Homo sapiens: one gene and its partners. The protein of the gene in region 1 purifies or fractionates together with the protein of each later gene. This does not show direct contact. Each region holds a gene or a part of one and is shown on either strand. Other genes may lie near its edges.

Evidence for each region. Proteins that work in one complex are often made in the same cells at the same time.
Region 2: the proteins of CUL9 (region 1) and IQGAP3 purify together in Homo sapiens (co-immunoprecipitation; one large-scale study listed by IntAct). This does not show direct contact.
Region 3: the proteins of CUL9 (region 1) and ISOC1 purify together in Homo sapiens (affinity purification with mass spectrometry, with the first as the bait; one large-scale study listed by BioGRID). This does not show direct contact.
Region 4: the proteins of CUL9 (region 1) and EIF5A2 purify together in Homo sapiens (affinity purification with mass spectrometry, with the first as the bait; one large-scale study listed by BioGRID). This does not show direct contact.

Annotation. Positions count from the first base shown.
Region 1 is NC_000006.12:43,198,451-43,203,770, forward strand, and holds part of CUL9 (cullin-9), read left to right. Parts: intron 1-158; coding exon 159-405; intron 406-815; coding exon 816-921; intron 922-1,478; coding exon 1,479-1,706; intron 1,707-1,985; coding exon 1,986-2,076; intron 2,077-2,212; coding exon 2,213-2,384; intron 2,385-4,265; coding exon 4,266-4,371; intron 4,372-4,658; coding exon 4,659-4,754; intron 4,755-4,966; coding exon 4,967-5,142; intron 5,143-5,320. UniProt on the Homo sapiens protein: Core component of a Cul9-RING ubiquitin-protein ligase complex composed of CUL9 and RBX1. The CUL9-RBX1 complex mediates ubiquitination and subsequent degradation of BIRC5 and is required to maintain microtubule dynamics and genome integrity.
Region 2 is NC_000001.11:156,531,066-156,534,565, forward strand, and holds part of IQGAP3 (ras GTPase-activating-like protein IQGAP3), read right to left. Parts: coding exon 3,436-3,500; intron 3,077-3,435; coding exon 2,944-3,076; intron 2,811-2,943; coding exon 2,708-2,810; intron 2,042-2,707; coding exon 1,915-2,041; intron 183-1,914; coding exon 95-182; intron 1-94.
Region 3 is NC_000005.10:129,101,249-129,104,748, reverse strand, and holds part of ISOC1 (isochorismatase domain-containing protein 1), read right to left. Parts: intron 1-3,500.
Region 4 is NC_000003.12:170,895,138-170,898,637, reverse strand, and holds part of EIF5A2 (eukaryotic translation initiation factor 5A-2), read left to right. Parts: intron 1-3,500. UniProt on the Homo sapiens protein: Translation factor that promotes translation elongation and termination, particularly upon ribosome stalling at specific amino acid sequence contexts.

The sequences.
Region 1 (5,320 bases):
CAGGAAAGAAAACCCCTCATAGTTTGGTTAAAAACTATAGACATCCTCAATATAGAAGGAAAATTTTGGGGTGATTTTCTGGACCTTCCCAGTTCTCAGTTTGACAAACTGGTAAGACTCTTCATCCACATTTTTCCCTCTGGTGTGTCTGGCTGCAGCACTAGAGACCCCCATCATCCAGGGTCAGGATGGGTCCCCTGAGCTACTGATTCGATCCCTGGTTGGGGGCCCATCTGCAGAACTACTCCTGGACTTGGAGCGTGTGCTGTGCCGTGAGGGCAGCCCCGGAGGTGCCGTGAGGCCCCTCCTCAAGCGCCTCCAGCAGGAGACCCAGCCTTTCCTCCTGTTGCTGCGGACTCTGGATGCTCCGGGGCCCAACAAGACTCTGCTGCTGTCTGTGCTGAGGTGAGGGGCCTGTTGAGGCACCATGCATTGGGACGAGGGAAACTGGCAGACTTCAGGGACTTCACTTGTTTCTTTTCTGTTTTCTTTTTTTTTTTTTTGAGTTGGAGTTTCACTCTTGTTGCCCAGGCTGGAGTGCAATGGCACGATCTCAGCTCACTGCAACCTCTACCTCCCAGGTTCAAGTGGTTCTCCTGCCTCAGCCTCCCGAGTAGCTGGGATTGCAGGCATGTGCCACCATGCCCAGCTAATTTTGTATTTTTAGTAGAGATGGGGTTTCTCCATTTTGGTCAGGCTGGTCTCGAACTCCCGACCTCAGGTGATCCGCCCACTTCGGCCTCCCAAAGTGCTGGGATTACAGGCATGAGCCACTGTGCCTGGCCTGACTTCACTCGTTTCTACCCCCTCACCAGGGTCATAACCCGACTGCTGGATTTCCCTGAGGCAATGGTCCTCCCCTGGCACGAGGTCTTGGAGCCCTGCCTCAACTGCCTGAGTGGCCCTAGCAGTGACTCCGAGGTACCAGAACCCTGGCAAGGAGAAGAGAGGGAAGGGCAGCATCTGGGGCACCAACTCCTTGTGAGGCTCTGGAGGGCACAGCAGAGCCTTTCTGAATGGATCTTGGGGCACTGGGATGGGTGTAGGAGGAGGAAGGGTAATGTAATCTAAGAATCTCCAGAACTGGAATCTTTGAAGTATAAACCTTTTAGATGATTTTAGATTTGGAGTTTAGATTCTGGACTAAGGAGAAGCCCACATTCACCAATCCAGACAGCTGTCCTCCCTTCCGGGTTTGTGCATTGGAGAGCAAGGCTCAGGCACCAGGGTTAACATAGCTTGGCCTGGGCAGGAAGCAGCCTGGAAAGCTGTGCCCAAGCTCTGTTCTGCCAACTCACTCTGGAGTCCCAGCACTCCTCTATTTTACTCCACCCTGAATTTGGTACTCTTGTTTCCCTGGGCGTTGGCATGTCTCCACAATCTCAGCCACGACACTTCCTTTACTGAACCCTCTCCTCAATCCTTACATGTCCTACCTCTTGTTTCCTGTAAATTAATCTATGTGGCTCTGGGCTCAGATTGTTCAGGAGCTGACCTGCTTCCTACATCGCCTGGCCTCGATGCATAAGGACTATGCTGTGGTGCTCTGCTGCCTGGGAGCAAAAGAGATCCTCTCCAAAGTCCTGGACAAGCACTCAGCTCAGCTGCTGCTGGGCTGTGAGCTTCGGGACCTGGTGACAGAGTGTGAGAAGTACGCACAGCTCTATAGCAACCTCACCTCCAGCATCCTGGCCGGCTGCATTCAGGTGAGGAGCGGCTGTGGGTATGCAGCTGAGAGAATGCAAGTCAGAAGCAGGAGAAGGGGATTCACTGTGTTCCTCTTTGGTATCCCTGTTTGGCACAGGTTGTAGCAAATCTGGGGCACTTGTTTCCTAACCTTGACTCCACATGGTTCTGTCAAAATGTGGGGAGAGAGGAGTTGAGTATACCGTTGACCCTTGACTTTTTCTCTCTACCTGTTTCTGGGCATTTCTCTGTGTTCCTCCCTCTCCTCTTCCTCATTCTCCCTGATGTTCCGGCTGCAGATGGTGCTGGGCCAGATCGAAGACCACAGACGAACCCACCAACCCATCAATATCCCCTTCTTTGATGTGTTCCTCAGGCATCTCTGCCAGGGTTAGTGCCCTCATCTGCTTTCTCCTGGCTCCCATCCAGTGTCTGTTCTCCCCTTCCCTTCCTGCTCCTTAGACCTTTTCCTTTTTCCTCTCAACTAACCTAGCTGTGACTGCCACCCCTTCCCACTTGCCCCCAGGCTCCAGTGTGGAAGTGAAGGAGGACAAGTGCTGGGAGAAGGTGGAGGTGTCCTCCAACCCGCACCGAGCCAGCAAGCTGACGGACCACAACCCCAAGACCTACTGGGAGTCCAACGGCAGCACCGGCTCCCACTACATCACCCTGCACATGCACCGTGGTGTTCTTGTTAGGTGTGAACACACATATATGAATGTTCTGCTGTGCCCCAGGATACTTCCCCAAAGCACCCAGATACACACAACCCCAGCTATAACCCCAATGCCTGAGGGACACACTCAAACCTATTTTGTGCAGTGAACACATAGACACATTGACCTGCCTTTGCTGAGTATAGACATCCCCTCACTCCCAGAGTCTGGTGATCTGTACTCCAACAGGTACAGATGGCACTGCCCTGTGCTTAGTGTTGAGGGAGATAAACAGCTCACTTATCCATTTCTCCTTTGGGCATTTGCTTAATGCCAGGCATTTGTGTCAGGCACTGTGCAAGGGTCTCGAAATAGAAGGACAATAAGATATGGTACCTACATTCCAGCTGGGGAGCTACACTAGAAAATCAAGTAAGAGCACAGAGTAAGAAAAAGCATTGTGGTCCACATGTGGACCTGAGACTGACAGGCATGAGAGCAGACTTCCTTCTGGAAGGAGGGGGTGACTGAGCTGGGTTTTGACATTGAAATTAGGTAGATAAAGAGGGGGCAATATTCTAGGCATAAGGACAGCATATGTGCAAAATGGAAGTAAGAAAGTATATTTGGAGGGACTTTAAGTCATCATATTTGGTTACAATTGAAAGCTGTGTATATCTTTATTTTTATTTTTTTATATTTTTTGAGATGGAGTCTCGCTCTGCCGCCCAGGCTGGAGTACAGTGGTGTGATCTCAGCTCACTGCAACTTCTGCCTCCCGGGTTCACCCCATTCTCCTGTCTCAGCCTCCCGAGTAGCTGGGACTACAGGCGCCTGCCACCACGCCTGGCTAATTTTTTGTATTTTTAGTAGAGACGGGGTTTCACCGTGTTAGTCAGGATGGTCTCGATCTCCTGACCTCGTGATCCGCCCGCCTTGGCCTCCCAAAGTGCTGGGATTACAGGCGTGAACCACTGCGCCCGGCCGAAAGCTGTGTATGTCTAAGTGGCGGAAGATACAGGCCAGAAAAGTAGGCAAAGGCAGATCACAAAATGTTTTGTGAGCTAAGCAGTTTGAACTTTATTCCAAAAGTTGGGAGAGCCATTGGAAGATTTTAAGAAGGGAGGAGAGAAAACTAGATTTTTTATTGAGAAAGCTCACTCTGGCAACTATGGGAGTTTGCGCTGGAGGTAGAAGAAGGAGGTGGAAGGTGTATGCAGTGCTCTAGTAGAGAAAGGATCCATGTGTTCAGTTAGACAGCAGGAGTGGGAACTGACTGGGAAATCCTCAGAGATGGAGTCCACAAGACTTGCCTTTGGGTGAGGGAAGCCATGAGAAGGTGAAGGCCTCAGTGACAGTATTCTAGTTGAGTACTGAGTGCACGGAAGTTTTATTTCCCAGGAGAGAAACAGGAAGCGGGACAGGTTTATGTGGACAGATGATCATTTCATTTGGGCATGATGACTCTGAGGTGCCTGTGGGACATGACATGGAAATACCTGTTGGGGACACAGCATGAAAGCTCAGGAGAGTGGTCTGGGATAGAGATGTGTATTTGGAGTCCTCTGTGTATTAATTTTCAGTTGAAACTGTGGGTTTAAATTAAGTCACTTTGGGTGAATATAGAGGGAAGAGCAGAGGGTCTAGTGGGGACAGCTGCCTCAGGAGCCAGCAGAGGAACAGGAGCCTGAGAAAGAAGTGGTGGCTTGAAATAGTTTTGAACTGAAACCAGGGCTCTGGCCTTTTTATTTCCTTCTTTTGATTTTTATTTCGTAGAGGTGGGGTCTTGCAGTGTTGCCCAGGTTGATCTTAAACTAGCCTCAAGCGATCCTCCCACCTCAGCCTCCCAAAGTGTTGGGATTACAGATGTGAGCCACCACGTCCAGAGGCCCAGCTTTGACTGTTTCCTTTCTTCTTTCCCAGGCAGCTCACTTTGCTGGTGGCCAGTGAGGACTCAAGCTACATGCCAGCCAGGGTGGTGGTGTTTGGGGGTGACAGCACCAGCTGCATCGGCACTGAGCTCAACACGGTGGGGACCCTTGTGCCCACCTTCACCTTGCTCCACATCCTTCTTTTTGTCCCAGTGCCTGTGGGAAGGACCTAGTCCCTGGGGAATGGTGACATCCCTTCCCCTTGGGAAGGTGTTGCCTTGTAAGCAGTGAGAGTGGGATTAGGGATGCAGAGCCACGTCCATCCCTAGGCTCTGCGGGAGAAGTGAAGGGCACACACCATGACCGACTTGGTTACTGTCAACAATTTTTCCAACCTTGTTTCTGGAGGTGACAGTTCTCTCCCTCTTCTCCCCTGCCCTACCAGGTGAATGTGATGCCCTCTGCCAGCCGGGTGATCCTCTTGGAGAACCTGAACCGCTTCTGGCCCATCATCCAGATCCGCATAAAGCGCTGCCAGCAGGTGGTGTTAGGGTGTCAGCCAGGGCTGAGGAGGAGGAGGTGGCACACAAGTTTCTCCTTGATCTGCTTGGGAGATGGCCCAGGACCTGTTGAGTCCCAGAGATGTGGGGATGTCCTGAGCAGTTCTAGGGAGCTCAGGGCAGGAGGCTTGGCTTTGGTAGTACTTAGTGGCTCAAGCGGCTTGGGTGACAGATAAGTCTGTGCATGTTCCAGGGCGGCATTGACACCCGGGTTCGGGGTGTGGAGGTCCTGGGCCCTAAGCCCACATTCTGGCCACTGTTCCGGGAGCAGCTGTGTCGCCGAACATGTCTCTTCTACACAATTCGGGCACAAGCCTGGAGCCGGGACATAGCAGAGGACCACCGGCGCCTCCTCCAGCTCTGTCCCAGGTGGGTGGGGCCTGAGGAGGGAAGATGGGTAAGGGAACAGGACACTGTGAGAAGTAGGAGGGATGCTCCTGTGGGAGTCCGGAAGGGAAAGCTGCAGCCAGGACATGAGGGGGAAGGTGAACGTAGGTGAGAAGTTTGTGTTAATTGGGAAAAGTTGGGTCAGGGACCGAACAGGGGT
Region 2 (3,500 bases), on another chromosome or scaffold:
GGGTGAGGTTCAGAGGAGGGAAACAGCAGCGGTGCAGGTGGGATGAGGTGGGGGATGAATGAGACAGAACCTGTGGGCCAGCCCGGCTACTCACTTGCTCTCTGGAAGCCGAGAGGGACAGGATCTCCTTGAGGGTGTCCCCAGGATGGAACTGTATGATATCGGCCAACAGCTGCTTGGTGCTGCACAAGGAGGACAGTGACAGAGGAGAGGTAAGGGGCAGGGGAAGGGCCTGGACATGGGACTGGCCAGAGGTCTGAGAGTAAGTGGACCGTGCTCTATAGCATGGCTGCTAGGATATAAGGAGAGAGAGCGAGGGATAGGGGATGTCGTTGCCTGGAATACCTTCCCAACAAACTATCTGCCTTTGAGTCCTTCAGCTGAGCACACATGTCCTTCCCACCCAGCCATCCCTTCTCCTTAGCTCTCAATGCATCTGACACCCACCACCCTCTTGGTGGTGCTCTGTGTTCAGCCCTAGCCCGATCCTGCTCTCAGCCCTTTGATGGCAGGACAAAGATGATACTCAGCTCACTTGTTTTTTTTTTTTTTTTTTGAGATAGAGTTTCACTCCTGTCACCCAGGCTGGAGTGCAATGGCATGATCTCGGCTCACTGCAACCTCTGCCTCCCAGGTTCAAGTGATTCTCCTGCCTCAGCCTCTCAAGTAGCTGGGATTACAGGTGCCTGCCACCACACCCAGCTAATTTGTGTATTTTCAGTAGAGATGGGGTTTCACCATGTTGGCCAGGCTGGTCTCGAACTCCTGACCTCAGGTGATCCACCTGCCTCGGCCTCCCAAAGTGCTGAGATTACAGACATGAGCCACCGCACCTGGCCAGCTCACTTGTTTATTGAGTGAATGAGTGGGTGCAAGGGGTTGCCTTGTTGGCAGGAGCTTGAGCTGGCACTTTGGCTCCTCTTCTGCCCAGATGACCAGCTCACCCCTACTGGGAGTCCTCCCTCACTTTTGTAGAACTGGGGAAGAAGAGCTCCATGCCCATCTCCTGACCATCACACTCAACAAGAATGCGGAATTAGGCTGGGCGCAGTGGCTCACGCCTGTAATCCCAGCACTTTGGGAGGCCAAGGCAGGCAGATCACTTGAGGTCAGGAGTTCAAAATCAGGCTGGCCAACATGGTGAAACCCCATCTCTACTAAAAATACAAAAATTGGCCGGACATGATGGCGAGCACCTGTAGTCCCAGCTACTCAGGAGGCTGAGGCAGGAGAATCGCTTGAACCCAGAAGGCGGAGGTTGCAGTGAACTGAGTTCGTGTCACTGCACTCCAGCCTGGATGACAGAATGAGACTCCATCTCAAAAAAAAAAAAAAAAAAAAAGTGGAATTAGAACATGAGCTCTACAACCCACTGGCTGTGGAACTTTGGATAAATCACATAACTACTGAGTCTTTCCTCAACTATGAAGAGGGGAAGCCACCATCTACCTCATAGCTTGTTTCTAAGAATAAACGATAACTTATTAAAAAAGCATTTGGGCCAGGCGCAGTGGGTCAATCCTGTAATCCTAGCACTTTGGGAGGCTGAGCCAGGTGGATGGCTTTGAGGCCAGGAGTTTGAGGCCAGCTTGGGCAACATGGCGAGACTCTGTCTCTACTTGAAAAAAAAGAAAAAAGCATTTGGTAAACAGCACGATATGCAAACACCTGCTGTTGCCAATATCTTCACCATTCCTTTACTTTCAGTACAACACAGAGCAAAAAGCTGAGGATACCAGATGGAAAAGAGCCAAGGCTGCAGCGAGGGGAATAAAGGTAGGCTTCAGGGAGAACTTCCTGAAGGATAAGGGAGCCCAGGAAGAAGGTGGAATGGGCGCCTCAGAATAAGGCCATTTTACTGGCCTCAGGGCTGGGGAGCTCAGGTATGCAGGGGCAGAGGCTGGCATCACCCACCTCAGAAGCAGGCTACGGGTGTTGGAGTCATCAGCATCTGCCTCTAGTCCTTCAAACTTGTTGGTCAGCGTCAGGGACACTTCTAGCTTGCTCAGGTCCGTGTGCCCATCTGCAGCGATGCTCTCACCTGAGGTGTGGTGAGGAATGAGAGGGAGACAGGCATACACACACACATGCGCACACACACATACACACACACACATGCACCGATGGGGTCACATTAAATCAGCTGCTCCACATGCCCCTCTTCCAGGAAGTTTTCCCACACTGGCCTGCAGAACTACCCTGTGTCCCCAACCCTTAGCACCGATGGAAGGGCTGTTACCCACAGAGCATACCCTTGTGTTACTGGGGCTGTGCCACCCCCACACCCTCAGCCCTGGGTGCCCTGAGGGTAGAGGAGCTGTGCCTCCCTGAGCCTGCAGCTCCTGGTTCTCTCCAATCACCATCTTCATTCTGTCCTTCCTCCCAGTAAGTTGGCTTCCTCCTATTCCATGGCCCGGAAACCCCTCCTTCTCAGAGAAACCTAATGAGGCCCTGATCCCTGTGCCTCTTTCAGATCATTTCATTGACCGTTTTCCATGATGATCGTGGGTCCCTCTACTGTCTGTCTACCTTCTCCACATCAATCTGTGTCCCTGTGCCCATGTCAGGACCAGAGGGAGAGTATGGAACTAGCCGCCTGGCACAAGACCTAGGCTGCATGGGCACGCTCACATGCCCTGCCTGCCTGCCTGTCCCTCCCTCCATGCAGGTCCCCTAGCTGGCCTCAGCTGCTAAGGAGGGCACGTACCAATAAGGTCAGGGATGGTGGGCAGCTCCCCAAGATCCTCCAGGAGCTCATGCAGGGGGTCTTGGTGATCAGGGGCAATGCAGTCCTGGTGCTCCAGCAACAGCTGCAGGACGGAGAAAGAAAAGGAGATGCAGGGTCTGAGCCAGGTCTTCCCTCTGGGGCCAGCCCACTACCCCATCACAGGCTACCAAACCCTTGCCCACCCAGCCAACACCCTCCAGATCTCAGCCCCTCACCCTGTGCGTGTTGACCAGCTCCCCCACGGTGATGTACACCATGGGTTTGGCCACAGCCACCATGTCTGAGTACTCGTCCACTGCAAAACGCTCCTCTGGCTCTGGCACCTGGCAGGCTCTATGGATGAACTTCCTGTCCAGAGGGCGGGCATGTGAGAGAGCGGGGAGGGCCAGCACCCCACACATCTTCTGTCCCCATCATTTCCCCAGCCTTCTCCAGTGATTGCTCAGGCCAATTTGGACTCTCCAGTCTCAGCTTCTGCCCTCTGTCCTGCCCTACCTCTGTCCCAGTGACCCCTCAAGACAATCTCTCTTAATAGTCTCCTTTTCTCTCCACTGGGGAGTCCTTCCAACAACCTATCCTCCACCCCGCTCATTATGCTCATCCCTTCTATTTATGCCTCTTGTCCTCATGGATTCTGGAGGGGACAAGTGGGATGTCAAAGGTGAGAAGAGGGAAGAAAGGGGACAGAGAGGAAAGGGACCCAAGACCTGAACTTGAGGTGTGTTTCCTCCAGATAGTCATTCAGGACCCGTAGGTGCTGGCTCTGCCCAGA
Region 3 (3,500 bases), on another chromosome or scaffold:
GAAATGAACCAGCCAACAATACAGATATGATATAACACATTTTAACACATTCACATGACAAAACATTTTTTAGCCAATTAAAAAACATATGTATATGTCTTCAAAGAATTCATACCATCCATGGAAAAATACTCATAATGTTAATTTTTAAAAAGTGCAGTTCAATAGTATTTCAATAATGTAAAAATATGAATAAAAGTAGTAGTACATTACAATATTAACAAGTGGTTATATAATTGGGGTGTTGGTAATTTCTTTTTTTATACCATTCCTATATTTTCCAAGTGTTATTTAAACACATTTCCTGAATGTTATTTAAAGAAATTTCTTTATAATCAGAAAAAGTGTTACAATAGAAAAAAAATCTGATGTTGCTGCTTGTAAGTATAAAAAGTAAAACTTAAAATATCTGTAGCAGGAACATAAAAACTAAAAACAAAAAACAGACAGAAGCAAATCCAGAATTACTGCTATCATCAAGACAGAAATATGAAAATGCTATTCTCAAGAATAATTTTTAGAGTTCAAACAAAATGCAACGAAATGATACCAAGCACACCACTGCTGTTAAATGAACTGTCGTTTACTTCACAAGGAAGAGACCTATATTTGACATCTCCATTCTTAAACTATAGTTATCACGATAAGGAAAGTCAATGAATTAAGATGAAAAGTGGATATTAGATTACCAAACCTCATATTAGCTGCTGTAGTTGGTCTATAACAATTTGGGCCCAATATGGATCCACCAAAAAGCAAAAATCACCATTAAATATGAGAATTTACTCTCACTGGATTCTTAAAAGTCTGAGGTGCTTTTCTTTCTTTTGCAAATTGCAGGAAGTACTGTAAAGGATGTGTTCTGGTCCTGAATGAACCATTATCAATACCCTTACTAGCCGCTCCCTTAAATCATCCCTCTAATTATCCTACTTTGTTTCCCCTAAAACCACCTACAGATAACTATTATTAATAATATTCTAAAGGAGTCTGTGTCTGGATTACATGGTGTGGCTTCACCACCAACACAGCCTTAGACTCTCCTTAGTATCTCTGCAGGGGTTGACTCTCTGGAAACAATTACTACATGAATTAAATTAACCATTAAGAAATCTTTAATCCTTAATGATATAACTGTTCTAATTGGTTTGCACTTTGTTTTATCTATGTCCTGGTCTGAAGTACCCTGGCACTTTAATCTCCCTCTGGTACTGACTCTATAGATGTGTATTAACTAGCTATGCACAATCCAATACCAAATTCATGTTAGAATGTGAGAGCCATCTGTAATTCTTACTCTATGTATAGGGTTTTCCTACTTTTCCAATAAAGCATGATTAAAATAAATTCTCAAGCATATTATATGTTCTAGCTTTGGCTGTTTCTTTGCTTAATTTTAAATGCAAGTATTATGCCTCTGCTTTGGTCATTTTCAAAAGCAGTGACTAGGATCTTATATACAAATATAAATGCATTGCTGGGAAGGCTAATTTTTGTGCATTTAGGATACTATTTTAAAAACCAATCACTAAATTCTCTGTAAACATCAAATATTGACTCAAAAGGCTCAATATCTACATTTTTATAAATTTGAATCATGGACTCGTAGGCATCCACAATGTGTTTAGGGCACACTACATAAAGCAGTTTGCCTGCAGCAGGCCTACTGAAATAACCATAATGCAAGTAAGCCAGTCTCACCGTTTCACAACAGGTGAGAACCAGCAAAAACAAAAAAAAATTTGAAAAATAAAATTCCTGGGCAGTTGCGTAAATGTGGTGGAGGCCATTCACTAACATGCTTAGAGCTTACACTTGCTTAGAATTCCAGCTCTCAGATCCTATTTTATACTGTATTGACTACCTCTGTATACATTCCTAACAAGTTTCATTGTCTGGATTCTAAATTAACAGAAGGCTATAAACAGCAAATCAGAAAGGAAACTGCTGGAGGCAGGCAAACTGATAGCAGCAAGAAATGATGGCTGACAGAGAAAAGATTCAAAATACAATAAAAACAGATCAAAACTCAAATAATGCTACAGTCTAGACCTCCAGTGGAAGAGTAAAAAGCTGTTCTAACTTATAAATTAGGAAAACATCATTCCAGCACACTCATTAAGAAAACTGTTAAATTATATATTTCAGAAGGACTACATTATAAAATGGTCAAGATATTTTTAAGTTGAGGTGTTTAAAAGAATAAATCCTTACCTACCCAGGAATCCTAATATCCAGAGTTGTGGTCTCCAGTTCTTGCTAGCTGGTGTTTCCTGCCCTTCATTTTAGCTATGGGTTCTGGACAGGGGACTGCATCAGATGTGTCATATTAGACACACATTGAGGAGGTCAAAAATACAGCCCTAAAATCCTCACTGCCCTGGGAAATCTCTCTAGTATAGGAACTTACCATCCACAAACTCAGTAAACAAAGAAACCATAGAGAATACAGTGGCAAGGCATGTTTTTAAAGCAGAGTACAGGTTACAATTTACTGAATAAAAAATACCCTACCTTTCATAGACATTCTCCACATGCTGTTGAATATGATGTGGAGAGTATCTATGTAAGGTGTTTAACTCCCAACATCCTCTTGAATGTGGCTGCACTTAGTACTCTGCTTCTTATGAGGAGAGTATAGAGGGGGAAGAGTAACTTTACAATGGAGAGACCTGACGACTGTGTCTCAGCCAGGTGATCAAGATTAATGTCATTAATGACATCATGTTAATAACATGTACCTTTGATATGATGTAATGAGAATGACCCTTGTGACCTTCCTCTTGAAATTTCACAACCCCGATCCAACAATGAGAAAAACATCAAATGAATCAAAATTGAGGGACATTCTACCAAAATATCTGACCAGTGCTCCTCAAAACTGTCAAGGTCATTAAAAACAAAGTTGAGAAACTGCTATAGACTAGAGGAGCCAAAGGAGACAAGACAACAAAATGTAATTGGTATCCTAGTTTGGATTTTGGAACAGAAAAAGGACATTAGGGAAAAGCTAGTGAAATATGAATAAAGTGTGGTTTAGTTAATAGTAACGTACCAATGTTGGTTCTTTGGTTGTGACAAATGTACTGCAGGAATATCAAATGTTAATGTTAGGGAATCCAGCTGGGCATGGTGGCTCATGCTGGTAATCCCAGCACTTCGGAGGCCAAGGTGGGAGGATCACTTAAGCCCAGGATTGCAAGAGCAGCCTAGGCAACACAGTGAGACCTTGTCTCTACAAAACATATTTTTTTGAGACAGAGTCTCACTCTGTCGCCCAGGCTGGAGTGCAGTGGCGTGATCTCGACTCATTGCAACCTCCACCTTCTGGTTCAAGCGATTCTTGTGCCTCAGCCTCCCAAGTAGCCGGGATTACAGGCGTGCACCACTGCACCCGGCTAATTTTGGTACTGCTAATAGAGATGGGGTTTCACCATGTTGCCCAGGCTGGTCTTGAATTCCTGGGCTCAAGGGATCTGCCTGCCTTGGCCTCCCAAAGT
Region 4 (3,500 bases), on another chromosome or scaffold:
CTTATAAGAAAAGAGATTTAACTGATTCACAGTTCCACATGGCTGGGGAGGCCTCAGGAAACTTACAATCATGGAGGAAGGTGAAAGGGAAGCAAGGCATGTTTTATATGGCAGCAGGAGAGACAGCAAGCAGGGGGGATCTGTCAAACACTTTTAAGCCATCAGATCTCATGAGAACTCACTTACTATCATGAGAACAGCATGAGGGAAACTGCCCCCATGATCCAATCACCTCCTACCAGGTTCCTCCCTTGACATGTGGGGATTATAATTCAAGATGAGATTTGGGTGAGGACACAGAGCCAAATCATATTATTCTGTCCCTGGCCCCTTCCAAATCTCATGTTCTCACTTTCAAAACACAATCATGCCTTCTCAACAGTCCCTGAAAGTCTTAACTCATTCCAGCATTAACCCAAAAGTCCAAGTCCAAAGTCTCATCTGAAACAAGGGAAGTCCCTTCCGCCTATGAGCCTGTAAAATGAAAAGCAAGTCAGTTACTTCCTAGAAACAATGAGGATACAGGCATTGGGTAAATACTGTTATTTCAAATGGGAGAAATTGGCCAAAACAAAGGAGCTACAGGTCCCATACAAGTCCGAAACCTAGCAGGGTAGCCATTCAGTCTTAAAGCTCCAAAATAATCTCCTTTGCCTCCATGTCTTACATCCAGGGCACACTGATCCAAAAGGTAGGCTCCCAAGGTCTTGGGCAGCTCCACCCCTGTGGCTCTACAGGGTACAGCCTCTGCAGCTGCTTTCACTGGTTGGTATTGAGTGCCTGTGGCTTTTCCAGGCACATGGTACACCATTCTGGAATCTAGAAGATGGTGACCCCCCTTCTCACAGCTCCACTAGGCAGTGTCCCAGTGGGGACTCTGTGTGGGGGATCTAACCTGACATTTCCCTTCCACACTGCCCTAGCAGAGGTTCTCCATGAGGGCTCTGCCCCTGCAGCAGACTTCTGCTTGGACCTCCAGGCATTTCATACATCCTCTGAAATCTAGGCGGAGGCTCCCAAACCTCAACTCTTGCCTTCTGTGTACCTGCAGGCCCAACACCACATGGAAGCCACCAAGGATTAGGGCTTACACTCTCTGAAGCAACAGCCCAAGCTGTACCTTGACCCCTTTTAGCCACAGCTGGAGCTGGAGTGGCTGGGACACAGGGCACCAAGTCCCGAGGCTATACAGAGCAGCAGGGCTCTGGGCCTGGCCCATGAAACCATTTTTCCCTCCTAGGCCTCTGGACCTGTGTTGGGAGGGGATGCCATGAAGATATCTGGAATGCCCTGGAGACATTTTCCCCATTGTCTTGGCTATTAATATTCAGCTCCTTGTAACTTATGCAAATTTCTGCAGCTGGCTTGAATTTCTTCCCAGAAAATGGGTTTTTCTTTTCTACTACATGGTCAGGATGTACATTTTTCAAACTTCTATGCTATGCTTCCCTTTTAAACATGAGCTCCAGTTTCAGATCATCTCTTCATGAATGCATATGACTGTACACTTTCAAAAAAAGCCAGGTTACCTCTTGCACACTTTGCTGCTTAGAAATTTCTTATGCCAGGTAACCTAAATCATCTCTCTCAAGTTCATAGTTCCACAGATCTCTAGGGCAGGGCAAAATGCTGCCAGTCTCTTTGCTAAAGCACGGCAGGAGTGACCTTTGTTCCAGTTCCCAGTGAGTTCCTCATCTCCATCTGAAACCACCTCAGCCTGGACTTCACTGTCCATATCATTGTCAGCATTTTGTTCAAATCCATTCAACAAGTCTCTAGGAAGTTTCAAATTCTCCCTCATCTTTCTTTCTTCTGAGCCCTCTAAACTGTTGCAGTCTCTGCCTGTTACCCAGTTCCAAAGTTGTTTCCTTATTTTCAGGCATCTTTATAGCAGTGGCCCAAACTCCTGGTACCAATTTTCTGTATTAGTCCTTTTTCACACTGCTATAAAGAACTACCTGAGACTGGGTAATTTATAAAGAAAAGAAATTTAATTGAGTCACAGTTCCACATGGCTATGGAGGCCTCAGGAACCACGGCAGAAGGCGAAGGGGAAGCAAGGCACATCTTACATGGCAGCAGGAGATACAGCAAGTGAGGGGGGAACTGCTAAACACTTTGAAGAGAACTCACTCACTATCATGACAACAGCATTGCGGAGACTGACCCCATGATCCAATTGCGTCCCACCAGCTCCCTCCCTCGACATGTGGGGATTACAATTCAAGATGAGATTTGGGTGGGGACACAGAGCCAAACCATATCAAAGATTAAATAATTCATTCTCATTATTTTTGTTTTTCGTAGCTTAGTTTTATTTTTGAAAACTAATTGTATTTAATATAGCAATTTATCTTAATGTTTAATGTTTGTAAATGCATTGTTTTACTAGATGTTTTATATATTTGTACATCTGAAATGCTTTATATATTTCATTCCACAGTTTATGATTCTTAACTCTTAAAAAATAAAATAGCTCCATTACATACATCATTTTCAAAATATCAGTATTATTATTTGGCTTCTGTGTTTCAGTCACTAGTGGCACAGTACGAACATTTAACTCTTGAAATAGACAAGCTGTGCTTTAGGGAATTACTAAAAGAACAGAAATCAGAAAGATTTGTCTTGGAATGTTGTGGTTGTTTAAAAATTACACTTCAAGCTAGGTGCATTGGTGCACACCTATAGTCCCAGCTCCTTGGAAGGCTAAAGCAGAGGCTCACTTGACCCCAGGAGTTCGAGGCCAGCCTAGGCAATATAATGAGACGCCCATCTTTAAAAATATATATATTTTTTAAAAAGTTACACTTCTACCTCAACCTCCTTGCTCCCACTTCTCTACCAGCCACCTCACAAATATTTGAGGGTCTAAGAGGTTAGTTAAAAGTCTTTGTTGTAGCTCTGTAGGATTTCTTATTTTTGAGATTTCTAGACATATAAAAACTCAAATTTCCTGTGATAGATGGAGTTTCTGTGGAGAGCCATAGGCAGTTTTGGTAGATGGTGTATGTGGAGGAGAGCAATCCCAACGATATGCCTGGGTTATATCATAGTGGTTACAGGGGTTCAAGGACCATTGTCTTTGACTCCTTTTGTAGATATTAGTAGCTGGTATTCTGGATGGTAGCCTTTTATAAAACATGTTAGGATTCGAGGCATACTAATAGTGTACATGCTTTTATTAATAGAATAAATGAGTGGAGGTTGGTTGTTTACTCATTCCTGTAGTAAAAGAAGTTCAGTGGTATCAAAACCGTGCTTTTTTGCAGGTTGGGTTGACAACTGGGTTTTTTTTTTTCACTAATGTTATCCATACACTAGTGGATTTTGTTGTTGTTGTTGTTGTTGACTGAAGACCAAAAGTTTTCCACTTAATTTTGTTCATACTCAAATTAGAAAATGCATTGTTTGTAATAGCAAAAATAACTTTTATGCCCAGTAATGTGAAATTGGTTAAATCAGTAATAGTATGTCCATGCAGATATGTGGTAGTTAAC